Linked DNA regions of Homo sapiens: region 2 is linked to region 1. A link means that fine-mapping ties the variant in region 1 to the expression of a gene that starts in the linked region. Tissue or cell type: whole blood. Region 1 holds a variant in brackets; the other region holds the start of a gene. All regions are shown on one strand. Distances are between the middles of the regions.

Region 1 (8,327 bases):
TGGGGAGGCCACGGAGCAGCAGCACATCCTTCTGATGGGTTAACACCTGGGTGATACCAGCCCAACCTGATATCCCACCCACATGTCCAAAGATAGCACTCACATCTCAACCTGCCTCCCTCCTCGCTCTCCTAAACTCCAGACCTAGAGACCCAGCTGCTTCCTGAGCACCTCCCATTATATGTCCCCCAAGGAAGCGCAAATCTAGCCCCACCAAAACGCGATGCATCCTTTGCCATCCCCCGTTTCGCATCCTCTGCTCAGAGCTGGGCACCACCATCCGAGGGTCCGCAACATCCAAAAGCTCCCTGCTGCCTCTGAGGCCTCCTGCTTCTGCCAGGGCCCTCCCAAGAGGGCTCAGAGCCTGGAATAGGAATTAAATGAGGGCCTTGTGAGGTAGAAATTCCCAGAGGAAGGGCGAGGTTACCCAGAAAGGTCTAGAGAGACAAGCTCAGGTCCATTTGGGTGGACTGAAGTCCAAGCCCAGGTCTGCCCCTTGGCCAATGCGTGACTGTGGGCAGAGGCAGCCCCTCCCTGAACCTCAGGAATGATCACCACCCAGCACCTGCTGCGTGAGGCCACTGGGAGCTTTGTGGAGCCAGCACACTGAAGGGCCCACTCAATTACGGGGACCCTTCCTGCTACCATCACAGCTCCCGAGAAACCTGAAGTTGCCCCGCTTAGCACCCCAGGTTTAATTTTACCAGCTCTTTTTTCCCTCCAAGAGACAACCACTCCAGGCTGCCCTCACCTGCCCAGGCCTGGAAGCAGCCCCCTCTGTCCTGGGGCCGGCTCCTTTCCAGGCATGAAGCTCAAACAGGCGCTGTCAGTGGGTCCAAACCATCGCAGCCCCGTCAAAGGACCCCTGTGTGAGCCTCAAACGGGGCATTGATAGGGCCTCAGTGAGGGCTGCCCAGGCGATCGTGGGCTCGCTTGGCTTGGCTAGCCATGCGGACTTCCCCAAACCCAGCTATTTCCTGTCCCTCGGGTGGCCCCCTCCCAGCTGCCTGGCCACAGGGCACAATCCCACTACACAGCTCAGCCTGTTCTTCGGCTCCAGGCCAGAGGTGGGAGTCGGGGAAGGCGGGAAGGACGGGAGAGTCGCGCCGGGAAGTTCAGGGCCTCCTGGTCCTTGTGACACACGCAGCCATGGCCCTTCAATCTCCTTGTGATAGGATGCAAGGCTGGGCCAATGTCTCTCCTCCCGTGACCTCTGCTCCCAATCCACACTTGCCGGGGCTTCTCAGCGGGCCCTCTTCCCATGGGTCTTTGCAAGAAGCAACAACTGACACAGACTGGGCCCCAGCCCGTCTAAAAGCCTCCACTCGGAGTAGAAAAAAAAGGTGCTTGGTCTCATCTCTGACCACTGTGTGGCCTCAGGAAAGTCACTTGATGTCTCTGGGCCTCTGCCCTCAAGTGTGAACAGGAGCTCGCTTTCCATTTCTGTGAATTACACTGCACCAACTGCTTGGGGGTCTGATAAGGAGCAAATAACATCCATGAAGAAATCTGCCATTCCACAAAAAAACTGACACCACCAGAAGGTTGACAATGCCTCTCAAACTCATCCCCGTCCCTGCCGCCCCATAGGATGACTTCCCCAGCCTTTGTAGGGGTCCCTGCATTTGGGCTCTTCCTTCCTAAAACCCAAACCTTGTAACTCCTTGGCCCAAAATCCTTCAAAGACACCTGTCTCAGGATTAGTCCATGTTCCTCGGTGTGACATTCAAGGCTCTGAGGGCTCTTTTGGTATTGGTGACAGATCCCAATTCAAACAGCCCTGGTCTCTTTATTAACTTTACTTTCAGGTAAGTCCTCAACAGCTCAGCCACACCGGGGAGAAAAGATAAGAGATGGAGAAACAGAGAGACATTATTAAAGAGTTGTAGTCCTGGATCCTGCCATACCTGAAGCCAAAAATCCCTGGATTTTTTATTTGTATGAGAGCCAAGAAACATCGTGAACCACCTTCTGGTTTCTCATAATAAACTTGGCTCATAAGGCTTCTGTTACTTGCAACCATGTCCTTCCTGTAAATTCCCTTCTTGGCTGAACTTAGCCAGGGTGAGCTTGCACCTAAAGAGCCCCACTGTGTGCAAACACTCTTCCTGACCCAGCCCCACAGCGGGCCGACCTCTTCTCCCTCCCCTCCCCACTTGCAGCCACGCTGAGCAGCTCGCCCCAGCTCCTCTCCCCAATGCCATAGAGTCTTTGCGTGTCCTGCTACCTAGACCTAGAGCACCCTTCCCATTCTGCTTACTGCTGCCTTCTCATCCTTCAGACTCCACTTGGTGACAGCCTCCAAGAGGCTTTCTCTGGCCCTCAGGCCACGTCTGAGGTCCCCTAGGCTTTCCCTATCGTGGCAGCCCTTTTGCAGATCTGTCCCTCCTACCGCAGACTGGGGGGAACTGGAGGCGAGTCTCATCTGTTGAGGTCTTCCCCAGTGTCCAGAGCAGGACCCAGCCCCAGGGGAGTGGAGTGCACGCCTGATTAGGGAGACATCAGGGTGCATCATCTTGGGCTGTGGTTCATGATCAGACAGCATTGGGTCAGGACCACCCCTCGCTCAGCATGGCCCATGGGAGGAGTTTCTGGATGGAGCAACTAGGTATGTGTGAGTGTTTACATGGGTGTGTGGGGGTGGGCGTGTGTGGAGGGGTGTGGGGGGTGTGAGTGTGTGGGTATATGGGGGGTGTGTGGGTGTGTAGGCGGTGGGAGTGAGTGTGTGGAGGGGTGTGGGGAGGGTGTGAGTGTGTGGGTATGTGGGGGGAGTGTGGGTGTTTGGGTGTATTTGTGGGTGTGTGGGGGTGGGTGTGAGTGTGTGGAGGGGTGTGGGTGTAGGGGGTGTGGGTGAGTCCTGGGGTGATGGAGGTAGAAGGCTGGTCTCCACCCTCCCTACACTGTATTTCCAGAAACACATCAGCCAGACAGAAGCTTGTTGCTGCTTTATTGAAACTTCCTCCCTGTCGCACACAAAGCAATTACACAAGGGGGTATTGCCAGGGAGCTCTTGCAGAGCCTTCTCCCTCTGTACCCCCCGACAGTCCCCAGAGACCCTGCCTCCGTGGCCTCCACCTCTGGGTCAGCTCCCTGGAGGACCCCGACACACAGGGAAGCAGGCACAGGAGGGCTGTTGGGGCCAAACCTCCCCAGCTGCCACAACCGCCATGACCCCAGTGGCAGGGTCAGTGCCCACAAGGGGGTTGCCTGCTTTGACTGAACTAACCTGTGGGTTTAGTCCAACGAACAGATGTGCCTGATTTCAGGGCTGAATTTTTGCTTGACCACAAGCCTCGGGCAGAACAGATTCGCCTATGACTGAATCGACTGAATGGATGGCCAGCGACAGCCTGGCCTGGGAATGGACTGGCAGCTCATCACTAAAATGACTCCTTTCATGGAATCCACTGTTATGCAGCCACACTGACCACAGAGCAACTGAATAGGTGAGCATTGGATTGTTGATGACAACTCTTCAGCAGAACAATTGTGTGTTTGAAGGGACTGTTTTATGATGAAATAACTGTTATTTCCTGGAGCTAATTGTTGAATGACAGTTTGTCAACTGTTTAAATGAATTTCATTTGAATTAACAATTATACAGCCACTCAGAGGTCCTACATTCGCCAGAGTTGGCATCCAGTTGATGGGTTCATTTGAATTAAATGGTTTGGAGGCTAACGTGATTTTTTAAATTGAATTTCATCACTATTCTGTGTATTCTATTTATCACTATTCTAAATGACTCATGGTTGGCTAATTGATTATCATGTAAGCAAGCTATTTGAAGAAATTGATTACATATATTTATATATAGGGGGTAACTAATTAATGATTACTTGATTAAATTGCTATGTGAACTGACAACTATTTATAAATCAATGCAATAGACTGTTGTTTGACCAAATTATTTTACTGAACTGACAAGTGGGTTTTTGATTTGTCAGTTGCTTGGCTGAACTGATCAAGTCGATAGTTGCTTGACAAACTCACCAACTTTAGAATGGCCAATCGTCTAAACAAGTGTCAGAGCTGATTGAAATAAACCAAGCATTGTTGGGCTGAATTATGGAGAGACCCGAGGAGTGACTCAGCCTAAAGCGTTGACCCAGTTGTGAGCAGCTCACAGGCCCTGCAGGAGGAGCAGGCCAGCGAGGGAGACACAAGCAGATTGTCCTGCCAGGGAGGGGCGGGAGGGCCCACCCAGGCCACAGGGGCCACCAAAGCAAAAAAGCAGATTATGAGGCAGCT[C/T]CACCCCTCCCAGCACTGGGGCTGGGGCCTGGCGAGGGTCACACCTCTGAGTATGGGGGTGGTGCTGGGCCCCCCTCTGGGGTCTTCGATGGCAAAGACAGGGCTTCCTCGTAGGACGGCAGGACCACCTGGGAGAGACAGAGAGATGAGGGCTGAGTATGGTCAAGAATGACCTGCAATTCCAACCTGGGGTCATGGGACCCAAACCCCCACCTCTGGCAAAATGATGATGATAATGACTGGCAGGTCTTGGATATTTGCTATGTGCTAGACATTGCCTGCATGAGATAGGTGCAGTTCCCAGCCCTGTAGTGGACATATTTGCCTTTGCCTATTCAGCATCAAGTCCCCCTTATTTTGAAAACAGTGCACCATTTTCCTTGGGAAAACATTCTCAGTCCATATACCTTCAGAAGAACTGGTCCCATCCCTCAGATCCAGCGAGGTGGCTGGACTTGGCCACTCAAAGTAGAATTCCATCCCCCTGGCTATAGTCCTTGGTTTGGGGATAGGCACGTGGCCCAAGTTGGTCCAATCAGACATACTCCTGGGACCTTCTTTTTCTGTTGGGATTTCTGAGAGGGTGGGATATCTGCCTAGGGGTTTTGGCAGCCTTTTTGCCACCACAAGGGATGGGCTTCCGGAAAATGAAGCCAACATCAAGGAAAGTAGAGTCAAGAGTTGGAGAGGACGAGATCATATCCTGATGTCAGGACTCAGCCAGGCCCAAGCCAGACCTACATTTGGCTGCTAAGTTCTGTGAGCTAGTAAATTCCTGAAGTCAGATTGAGTTGGGTTTCTGCCACTTGCAACCAAAAGTGTCTTAGCTAATACAATCTCCACCTTACAGGTGAGGAAAGTAAGTTACCAGGAATTTAAACCGTCACTTTCCAATAAGCTGCTTCTAAGCACACCTCATCCTCTCTTCCCGGAAAGCCTCCTTCTGCTTTCCCAGCTATCTCATATCCATTGACCCTCCAAGACCAGTTAACTGTCACCTCCTCCAGGAAGGCTTCCCTGATACCTGAGAAGAGGCCAGGTCCTTCCTCTGTGCTTATTGTCCCTGTGCTTCACACCAAGTTGTAATTGTATCTATGTGTCTGAACTGTACACTCCTCTAAGGCAGAGGTGGCATCTTAGTTTTCTCTGCGCCTCCTGGAATCGATATGAGACTAGCAAAGAGTGAGAGGCAGTAAATACTGAATAAATGAATGAGTGAGTGAATGAATCTTAGACTACCAGAACTGAAAGAGAACACATTTCTTCTGTTCCAACCCTCATCTTACAAATAGAGAAACCAAGGTCCAGAGAGGGAAGGAAACTTGACCCAAATGGCACAGGGAGTTAGTGACAGGGCTGGCACCCACCTGCAGCCACACTCACCTTCTGGAGCATCTTGGAGTTTCTCTTCTCCTCCACCGAGTTCATGCACTTGATCAATCTGTAGCACCGCCACACGCACTTGAACATGTAGACCTGGAAAAAGGCCCAGGTCAGGCTGTGCTTTGCTGAGCGTCCTTCTCACGCTCCAGCAGGCCTAGGACATATGCCAGGCAGGAGCCACCACTCTCTCCAGAAGCCAGCATCCAGCTGCTCCTGCTCGGACCTCTCATTCTGGTTGGGGGTTCCTCACCAGCCAGTCCAGAATATTCCAGGTATTGCCCTTTTCATTGCCCCACAGATACCACATAGCAAGGGGATTTGGGGGGCTTCTAGCCCACCCTCCAATTTCCCTGGCAATAGTCCCACAGCTCCTGCTTGACTGCCCACACTGCCTGGAAGCTCACTACCTCCTGAGACAGCCCTGCCCATCTCGAAACAGAGCTGATGGTGGGACATGTTTTCTTCAAAATTGCTTCCGATATGTTGTTTTCTGAAGCAGATTACAAAACAGCATGTGCAGTATTGGTCCATGTTTATAAAGGAGGAACAGTTAGTACATGTCCATCAGCTGATGCAAGTTAATGTAAGAATTGGGCAGAAGCTTTCCAGAGTGGGGCATACAATCCCAAGGGGCAAGCTCAAGAAACAACAGAAAACCCCCAGGATGCCCCCTGAGTAAGAGGAGAGGGTCCTGTACTGGAAGGTCTTGTTTGATGGATTCCCTGATGGGCACATAGGTGGGGCAAGGAGACATATGGAGGTACGGAGTGACAAAGAATGAAGCATGAAGGCCCAGGGAAAATCAAGTCGGTGGAGGGGGCCAGAGAGGCAGAATGAGGGTCAAAGAGGGAAGCCCCTCATTCTGGAGGATAAAAAACAGAAGGGGAGCTGGGGGACGGAGCTGTGTGCTGGGGTCTGCGGAGGGGTCCTGCAGTAGAGAGTGCCATGGAAAGCCCACACTGGCTTCCCCCATGAGGCCTTCAGGGGTGTTCTCACTGTACACTCACTAGTGCGTTTGTGCTAGGTCAGTCCTTGGAGAAGATGCTAAAAGGGGCAAGGTTCTGTTTCTAGGTTGGCATTAGGTGACAGCAGAGACTGCCCAGGGCCTCAGATGGAAGCAGGAGCTGGGGTCTGCAGATGCCCACCCACCACCACAGAAAGGCTGGGGGGAAATGCACCCAGTTGTCAGCAGTGATGCTCTCTGTGTGGGGTGTGGATGGTGGAGTGCTTGTCTTCTTTCTACTTATCTGTAGTTTTTTGGTTTTTGTTTTTTGTTTTAGAGAGAGATTCTCACTCTGTCGCCTAGGCTGGAGTGCAGTGGCATGATTATGGCCCACTGCAGCCTCAACCTCCCAGGCTCAAGCGATCCTCCCGCTTCAGCCTCCCTAGTAGCTGGGACTACAGGCACACGCCACCACATCCAACTTTTTTTTTTTTATGTTTTGTAGAGACAGAATCTTGCTATGTTGCCCAGGTTGGTTTTGAACTCCTGGCCTCAAGCAATCCTCCCAATTCAGCCTCCCAAAGCACTGGGATTACAGATGTGAGCCACCACATCCAGCTCATCTGTAGTTTTTAAATTTCTACTATGACCTATGTTACTTTTATAATCAGAAAAGAACACTTTTTAAAAGCCCTTCCTTCTGTGGTCATCAGCATCCCTGTGGCTTCAGGCCACAGGCCCCCATTGTGGCCTCTAGGATCCCACAAAATTCCCCACAAGAGTTCTTCAGGTATTAAGAAACAGCAGTCAGGTCCCCCTTGAGTCCTCTATTTTCCATGCTGAATAAACGCTCAGGTCTTTGTTGGGTTTTGTGGGGGTTTTTTGACTTCCTAAGATGGCAGCGTTTTCTTGTCTCTTCACGTTGCTGGTTGTACTGCTGTGAACACACTCCAGTGCTTCACCATCACTCAGACCTGGGACCTGAAGCTGGACCCTATCCTCTGGGCCTGACCACCCCAGAGAAGAATGAGACCATTCCCCTCCTGCCTTCTCATCACCAAACCTCTATTAACATAATCTCAGGTACATTTTGATGCCTGAATTACATAAAACTGTAACACAGGCAAAACAAGACTCCTGCCCCTGAGGCCCAGAGAGAAGTGACTTGCTGAAGACCAACCACGCAGCTAGTGACAGTGGGGCTTGGATTCAAACGCAGGCCAGTCCAAATCTAATTCCAGACAGCTGGAATTAGACATCTGAACGCAGGTGGCCTTTACGGATTCACATGCCCTAAATGGGCTGTCTCGGAGGATCCCAAGTAAAGTCAGAGGAGCTGGCATGGGAAAGCAAGAGAAAGGAGCTAAAAGCAGGAGAGGAGGCATGGAGGACACATGTCCCTGCCTTCTAACAGCTTGGCATGGGCAGGCCTGGGCCCAGCACAGCCTCACCACCCCTCCCAGAGCCGCAGGGCAGGGATCCACTCACCTTGAAGATAAGGACAGTGATGAAGGCGATGGAAAAGATGATCATCATCTTGATGAACTGGTTATGAGGCATATCCTCCTGGCTGGGGAGGTAATTCTGCAACAGATTTGGGGGCCACATCAATGTCTCTGGACATAAGGAATTCCAACAGCACCCACACATCCGGGAATAATGATCCCACCCTCCACACACACACGAGCACAGCGTGGCACAGCCGTCACCTTGGTCGACCGCCACAGCAGCCTTAGGAAGCAGGTGCTAC
Region 2 (8,327 bases), 25 kb after region 1:
ATCTCTTGAACCCAGGAGTTCAAGGCTGCAGTGAGCTGTGATGGCACCACTGCATTCCAGCCTGGGTGACAGAGCAAGACCCCATCTCTTAAAAACAAAAACAAAACAAAACAAATCAAACCACAAAAGATGGGCAAGTTACTGAACTTTGAAAAAAAGAATAGATTTTTTAAAAAAAGAAAGAAAGTTTGCTGGGTTCCCAAAGTGTGCAAGTTTGGGTGACCCAGAGAATCCTCTACACAAACCCACTGACATCCTGAGGAAGATGCCCGAGCCCAAAGCTACGGACCAGGCTTCCCTCATGTAATAACGCCCTCATGACTCAATAGAGCGTGGCACTGTCTCAGGATGGCAAGGTCTCAATTTAACCCTCCCTAGAGGGGCCAAGTCCACAAATAGCTCATGATGTGCAGAGTCGTCACCCATGGCTGGGTCCAGATGACAGCCAGCATGGGCTATTGACACATCTGGACCACAGCTTCTCTTTTTCCATCCAGATGCTCAAGGTCCTATCAGCACACCTGTTGCCAGCTAGCCTATGGGAAAGCCCCCAGGCCCTGCCCTTTCTGGGAAGGAGAGAGGACTCTTTCGGGGTGCAGGAAGATAACCCCCCACTGGAGTCAACTGAGGACCACAGCCTGGAGACAACCTGGGCCGAGCGCACAGCTTCCAGGACACCCCTCTGCTCTTTTGCTTGCTCCTGCTCTAGAACGTCTCATCACTCATAGGCATTGGTTCTCAACTGGGAGAGATTGGGCCCCATAACTAGAGACATTTTTGGTTATCACAAGTGGCAGGGTAGGGAGATGGGCAGTGCTGCTAGTATCTAGTAGGTAGAGACCATGGATGCTGCTGAACTTCCTCTAACGCACAATTCACTCCCCCAAGATGAAGAATTATCCAGCCCAAAATATCAATGGTGCACTGCAGAGAAGATCCAACTTCTTAGCTTGTCACTCAAAACCTTTATCACCTCCTCCCCAAACTCCAGGTTTGTCTCTATTGTGTCCCTGTAGAAGCCGAACACATACGCCATTGCTCACCTGTTTCTCCTCACCTTCCATACTGCCCACAACCAAACTCTCCCTCCTGCCAATGGCACCACCTCCAAGAAGTCTTCCATGATTGCTAGGGCCCACACATTCTTCAGCTCTGTGAGCAGGGACCGTATATCACACCACCATTTACAGGTGAGGACATCGGATGGCACGATCAACAAGAAACCTTAACAGCCCCACAGTCCCGGGTTTGCAGGGCAGCCTCTGGGCCCACACAACCTGCAAATGGATTTGACTTGGCCTGCACTGAGATTTTTTTCTACCATGCATCAATCACTAGCATTGAAACATCAGAAGATGTGACACAAAAGCCTGCTCCCTATTCTCTAAACATCAGAAGAGCGGCCACCAGGGCCCACAATCCTTCGTGGCAACAACAAGCAAAAACAGAGAACAGCTGCAGGGTGGGCCAAGCAAGGGCTCCCGGGGTCACCGCAGGCCCCATCTGCCCCCTGCTGTCACTCACATGGCCTGCCCAGACCCTAGAGGCATCAGAGTTGGAGACCTCTGAGCCAGTCAACATCACCTTACCCCTGACTTTATAAAAGGGAAACTGAGGCCCAGAGAGAGGCTTGTCTGAGCCCATACAGCCAGTTAGTGGCAGGGCTGGGGTGAGGACCCAGGGACTTGCTACCTGTGAGGCGCCCCTGCATGCCACACTGTCCTTCTAAGAATGTGCATAGTCTCAGAGCTTGAAGGCCTAAAATACAGGGTACAGGGACACTCAAAGAGTGATTTGCTTCTCTCAGCTCTTGCATTGGCAGGAGCTCGGAAGGACAACCTCTGAGTTCCTCCTCCCAAAACTAGAGTCCTTGAATCTGACAACTTGACTCCAAGGATGCTGACAGCAGGTGCCATGTCTGATGCACAACGAATAATAAAGCACTCACCTGTGCGTCAGGCGTGGTTCTGCATGCTTTGTATGTATCAACTCCCTGAGCCTCACAACAAACCCTATCAGATGGGTATGATAATTCACATCCCCATTTTTTTAAATGAGAAAACTGAGGCTCAGAGAGGTTAAGTAAATTGCCCAAGGCTGCAGAGCTGGGAAGCAGGGAAGCCAGGATTTGCATGCAGGAGTCTGCATCCAGAGGCCGTGGGCTAACCACTGAACAGCATCGCCCCCCTGAAGGCTGGGCTCTTGCCACAGCTCTGCCTGCCCTGCCTGTGACAGGAAGCAGACGCAGGCAGGTCTGAGTTTGCAGCAACCCACCGCAGCATGTGGATCTAGGCTAATTTTGAGGAAGCCCTTCCAGACTCATGAGAAAACTGTTAACCACAGGCCCTGAGTCACCCCAGGAGGAAGTCGCTTGGGTCTAGGGGAGATGAGTGTGGCCAGGAGTTTGGGAGTAGGGTGGGTCTAGGCAGGACAGTACAAGGACACTGACCCTCAGCCACCCCAGGCAGAGGGGCAGCCTTGGCCCCCGGGCACTGTGACTTGCCCAAGACCACACTGTGAGTCACCAGGAAAGGAGGAACCAGTGACAGCCGTGACTTCACAAGTTGCCCAACAAGAGCTTGGGCCGGACAAGTTACCCTAATGATTAGCACAGGTCTCAAGTTCTCTTTGGTGGGCAGAAGGCCGTGGTTTGACTGAGCTGGAAGCTGAGAGGACACGGCCCCTGCCTCCCCACTGGAGGCACAAAGGGGAGATCCCCACTTCTCATCCCCTCGAGTGGCCCAGGCTCCCTCCAGGCCCCAGGGGAAGAATCGGGGCTGTGTCTGCGGCCGACCTCACATCCCGGTCAAACAATCCCAGCCCACGTTCCTCCCAAGATCCCTGCCTTCCAAAGCACTTTCACATCTGCTGTTGGCTTTGCACACAAATAACCTTCCGGCTGCTGCTGTGCCCCATCTCACAGAGGCAGAAACGGAGCCAGCCTCGGAGTGAACGTCAGTTACATTTGCCTGGAAAGTGGATTCCAGCTCCCTTACTCCTCACTCTTGCGGCATCTCCCCAGGGTACCCCCAGCCATTTGACAGAGAAGGAAACTGAGGCCCAGAGCAGGACAGGGATTTGCCCAGGGTCCCCCAGAGAGGTGGAGAGCAGGAGTTCTTTCATTTGTGGGGCTCCGTAGATGACGGGTCACCGCAGACATTCACACTCACACAAGCACGCACGCACACACACCCGGGGCCCGCACACTCACCACATGGTAGATGGCCAGGGCGGTGGTTGCGATGCGGACATTGAAGCAGCAGCAGGTCTGGCGGACAGTGGACAAGCGGGGGTCCATGGTGCTGCCGTCCCCTCCTCTGAGACACTGAAGGGGAAAGAGCCTGGTGCCTGGAGCAGGGCAGAGAAGGGGAAGCTGCTGGCTGCCCTCCTCACTTCCTTCCTGCCCCTTAGACAGGCAGGGACAAGGTCGTCACAGCTGGGGCGGGGCAGCTGGGGAGGGGGAGTGGGGACAGGGCAGCAGCCTGCCTCAGAGCACCCCACTGCCCTCTGCCATTCCCAGGAGGGGGTTCCAGAGAGGACAGACCCTAACACGGTCATCATGCCCTTCTCTGCACCAGGGCCAGGGTTCCACCGTTTCACACAGCTTGCTTACTAGAAGAACACTACCAACTTTGGAAGCCAGGACTGTTACCAAGCCCATTTCCAGATGAGGAAACAGCTGTCCAGAGAGGTCAAGGCACTTGCCCCAAATCACACAGTAGTTAGCACTGGTGGCAGAATTCAAACCCAGATCTGTCTGGCTGCAAAAATAGCTATTGTCTAGGAGGCATTTCCTGCCTCTTCCAGGCATGCTCCTGGATTCACTCCTTTCATCCTCACCTCAATCCTTTGAGAGAGGTACTATTATGATCCCCATTTTACAGATGAAGAAACTGAGGCACAGAGAGGGGGAATGATTCGTGCAAGGTCACACAGCTAGTCAATGAAGGTGCAAGGATTTTAACTGAGGCTGACTGGTGCTAGAAGCCTCCCTGGAGCTGGTGTTCTCTCCCACTTCCTCACCCTGAGCCGCAGGGAGAAGCTTGTTCTTCCTAAGCTACGAAGAGGCGTGCAGGGCTCCAGACAAGGACGGAAGAATAACCAGGAAGCAAACCCATCAACTGTGCGCCAGGCCCTGGGCTAGGCTTCTCTTCTAGGTGGGTCAATAACTCTTCACAGCAATCTGTGAGACCCGAACCTCACTTTCAGGGCCTCAAGACCCAATCCCCATACTCACACAAAATCAGGGATTGCTTTTCCCCCTTGATCTTGCAAAAAGTTGGAATTAATAAGCCACAACTCTTAGGCAAGCTACCCTGGAATCTCTACTCCCTCCTCAGATGATAAATTATCCATATTGCAATAAAGAAAGGGAATAGGAAGTACATGCAACATTTCTGGAAGAAGCCCTGCTTCATTCCACAGCTGAGCCCCTTTGCAATGCCAAGCTTCTAGTGCAGAGCAGACAGGAACTGCCATGAAGCCCTGCCCTCCCAGGAGATCATGGAGTTAGGATTGGACACTGCTGCAGCCCATCATTTCTGCCCCAGGAGAGGTTATAGAAAGTCCCTAAGCTCCTCCCACTTGGCAGGAGTTGCTCTGTTAGACCCACAAAACTTGATTGGTGGACTTGATCAATCCATTCTCCATGTGCCAATGAGACCAAGGGGACTCTGCAAGCTTTGGGCTCCTGGGAGGCCTGGCCTATCCCTTCCCAACTTCATTTTCAAGGCTGTTCCTGTTCCTTCATAAGCCTTGCTGAGGCCTGACATCATAGAAAGGTGACACAGTGCAGTGGTTAAGAACTTTGGCTCCACAGGCCCATGGCCTGGGATCTTCTGGCTGGGTAGGCAGAAAACCAAGAGAAGTCCTCCTTTGTCTAAGAGTAGCAAGACCAGAGGAACTGGAGATCAGGAAACCAGGGGCCAGGAGGGCCCTGAGGCCATGCTGGGGAGTCTGCATTTGATTGTGCACAGAAGCCATTTGACGATTTCCTACCATAATAAATGATAGCCATTCATAACATTGTGATTTGGTGAAACCAGGACAGGTGCAAAGCCAACTCCCAAAGAGAGGGATGAAACACACTGACAGCATGTGGAATAATTGTACATGGTCTATGGGTAAACATTTCTCATTTTTTATGGTGATAAATTCATTTTAATGTGCATTATAAAAATATACATAACTAGTCCATGAATCCTGTGATTTTCCATTTATAGGAGTAATATAAAGTCTCATTTTAAAAGAAATGCATTTAAATAAAAAAGGCAGTAAGTCAATTTAAAGAACATATTAAGGAAGCCACAGCCTAGGAGGACGCAGATGTGGCAGACAGCCCTGGAGGTGGAGTAGGTGGCATCCGTTTGGGAATCCTGGGGCATGGGGAATCCCAGCTCCCCACTTAGTAGCTGTGTGGTGTCAGACAAGGCACTTGATCTCTCTGAGCTGTTGTTTTCACCTCTGCAAAACGGCGGGGCGGTTGGGGGGAACAGAAATTTGCCTGGCAGGGCTGCGGTGAAGGTGAAATGAGGTCACGTGAATGCATCTGTTTGTTTTCTCCCTTCCAGCCCGTCCCTGCTCCCCGATCTCACCCGTACTCAGGCTGCTAGGAGGAGGCAGAGCTGGGATTGAACCCCTGATCTGTCTGATTCTGAGTCCCCTCGGGCACTACCTCCCTCGCAGAAGCAGGAGTTCTGATGCAGTCATTTGTCTCTCACCGGGTCACCAGGCTCCAGCACACACTGGCCCCTTGGCAGGCACCTCAGTCACTCCCTGTGGAGTACAAGCCTGAATCACTTTATTGTCATTCCCAACAAACCCCCTGTGGAGAGGACGGCTATTATCCCAAAGGTCAGACCCTTTGGCCAAAGCCACTGTGATAGGCAGAATAGTGCCTCTCACCCCCCAAAAAAAATCCACCCTAATCTCTGGAACCTGTGCGTACATGGCCTTACATGGCAAAGAAACTTCACAGGCGCCATGAAATTCAGGATCTTGAGGTGGGTGGGGAGATTATCCTGCATTATCTGGATGGCCCTGAGGTCATCAAATGGGTCCCCATAAGTGAAGGAAGATCAGAGTCAGAGAGGGAGTGGAAGATGCCACACTCCTGGCTCTGCAGTTGGAGGAAGAACCATGAGCCAAGGAGTGCAGGCGGCATCCAGAAACTGGAAAAGGCAAGGAAATGGCTTCTCCTCTAGAGGCTCGAAAGGGAATCACTTTCATTTTAGCTCAGCGAGGCGCATTCCTGACTTCTGGCCTCCAGAACTGTAAGACAATAAATGTCTGTTGTAGTCACTGTGTTTCTGGTCTTTTATTATAGCGGCCGCAGGGAACAAATACAGCTGCTCAGTGGAAGCAACAGCTGAGCCTGGGGCCCCGTCGCTGGAGCCCAACACACTCCACCGAGACCACAGTCCCCATCTGCACAAGTGCAGCCCTTACTTCCTTGCTGTGTGACCCCAGCCAAGTCGTGAACTTCCCTGAGCCTCCGCTTCCTCCTGCGCCAAGCGGGGATAATGATAATGCCCATCTCGTTGTCTGTACATGCAGGTGGCAACACCACATAAGCTCACTATTTATATTCTGCTGTTTTCCGTTACGAATGATAAGTTTTGAGCTTCTTCAAGTTGCTTTTCATACCTTCTTTGTGGAGTGGTAGAACCCTTGAAAACTTCAGACCCTCTGAATTCATCAAGATAAGGACAAGGAAATGTTCCATGCCACCGCAGCCACGGCAGAGCAGATACAAATCTGCTTGTCAAACTGCCCTTGTCAATGTTATTTCTGACAAAGGAATCTTCTAAGACCCCCTGACTTCAGACATGGTTCCCAGATCCTAGAGAGTCATCTTTAATCCTGAAAAGGTCTGTAATTCTGGCTGGTTATCTGGCTTAATAATTTGCTGCCATGGTATATGAATATTTAAACAGACAGCTCTGTTTCCTCAAAGGCAGAATTAGTTGTAAGCTTTCTTTGTTAAGTCAGAAGAACATCACTGGAACTTCCCTCTTCACCCATAGGCCTGGAGGTAAAAATAAAACCCACGACTCTGCCAGCTTTTGTATTTAAACAAAGAGTTTGGGAGTCTTGTGTCCTTTCCATTAACCTAGATGAAGCACTTAGAAGGGGCTGGGTCACGGTAAGGACTGCACAGTGGGAAGCATTTTGATCACGATTGTCACTATGATTCTTCCTGTCCTTTAAACCCTTTCTCAGCTGAGCCTCCCCCAGCCCTAGCCAGCAGAGGAAGGCAGCAGAGAGGCACTGATCAGCTCCCGTAGACCCAAGGGGCCAGTGATCTGCTGCAAGACACACAGCTGGTCAGGAGCAGAGCCAGGACACAGGTCCTCCTTGGGGACAGCTTCGTGGGCGGCATGTGAGTGGTGGCAGCCAAGGTAGCTCCAGGGCTGTCTTCTCCCGAGGGGCTCCTGGGTGCCCCCTGCAGCTCACCCAGGCTGAAGGTCAGCTTCCTGCCAGACCACTGGCCTGTGATTCCCTTCTGGCTGCAAGCCCCACCTCACTTCTGCCTTTGAGGTTTGGGGCTGGAATGTGTAGGGCCAAAGCCAAAGGCCTGAAAAATGTGAGAAACGGCAGAGCATTCTCTCCTGTCTCCTGCCCCGAACCCAGCACGGTCACCAGGGGTCAGGGCCTACACGTGCAACCCACAGGGTCCCTCCCCTACTCCCCTGCCTGTGGAAGGGGCCCAGGCCTTGAAGTCAGCCTGGAGGGTCAGCCTGGCAAGGACAGCCCACAGGCCTGTGGCCTGGGGACAACCAGACCTTCCAATGACCAGCTGCTGAGTCCAGTGGGCAGGCAGGGGACCCCAACGGTCTGCCAGACACTCCAAGGAGGCCTCCCCTCAGCCAGGCAGTCCAGGGGTCCCTGGCTGCACCCAGGGGCACAATGACACCATATCCTAGTCTGCTGCTGCCACAGGCACTGCAGGCTGAAGGCTCCAGGGAGATGGGACCAGCAGGCAGAAGGAGCACTGGCTGCAAAGTCTGCATAGCCGAGCCAGCAGCCTCCTGCTGAATAACAGCTCTGGGCACACCCCAGGACGGAGCATTTTAGATCATGGGTGCAGCCGTACTATCCATGGGGAGCTGGAAAACCCGGCTCCCTCCTGGCCCTGGTCTCCAACCAGCCTCTGCCTCACTCTGAGCTGTAGAGTGGGGATTGTCATAGCGCATCCAGTGTGCTGCTGCAAGGACTAGGTAATTCCCTCCTAAGCACCAGCCTCTGCCAGAGCCCCCTCCTCCCTGCTGCTGACCTCATCCTCAGGAAAAACCTCAGAGATCCAGGCACCTTAAGAAGTTGGTGGC

Evidence for each region. PIP is the estimated chance that this variant, and not a neighbour inherited with it, causes the effect.
Region 2: it holds the start of LAPTM5, and the variant in region 1 is fine-mapped to the expression of LAPTM5 in whole blood (TOPMed, PIP above 0.99).

Annotation. Positions count from the first base shown.
Region 1 is chr1:30,729,539-30,737,865 of GRCh38, forward strand. LAPTM5 (lysosomal protein transmembrane 5) reads right to left here. Exons shown (of 8, transcript NM_006762.3): 6 at 8,066-8,161; 7 at 5,635-5,727; 8 at 2,931-4,379. The coding sequence ends at 4,290. Among named protein-coding and RNA genes, the nearest start is that of MIR4420, 5.5 kb to the right of the region's middle. RefSeq lists enhancers at 675-804, 955-1,064, 2,734-3,239, 3,240-3,745, 3,786-4,287. The variant C/T (reference allele first, on the strand shown) is at 4,252.
Region 2 is chr1:30,754,448-30,762,774 of GRCh38, forward strand. It overlaps LAPTM5 (lysosomal protein transmembrane 5), which reads right to left and starts at 3,327. Exons shown (of 8, transcript NM_006762.3): 1 at 3,212-3,327. The coding sequence starts at 3,298. RefSeq lists enhancers at 598-947, 1,419-1,468, 2,134-2,930, 3,059-3,338, 4,407-4,476.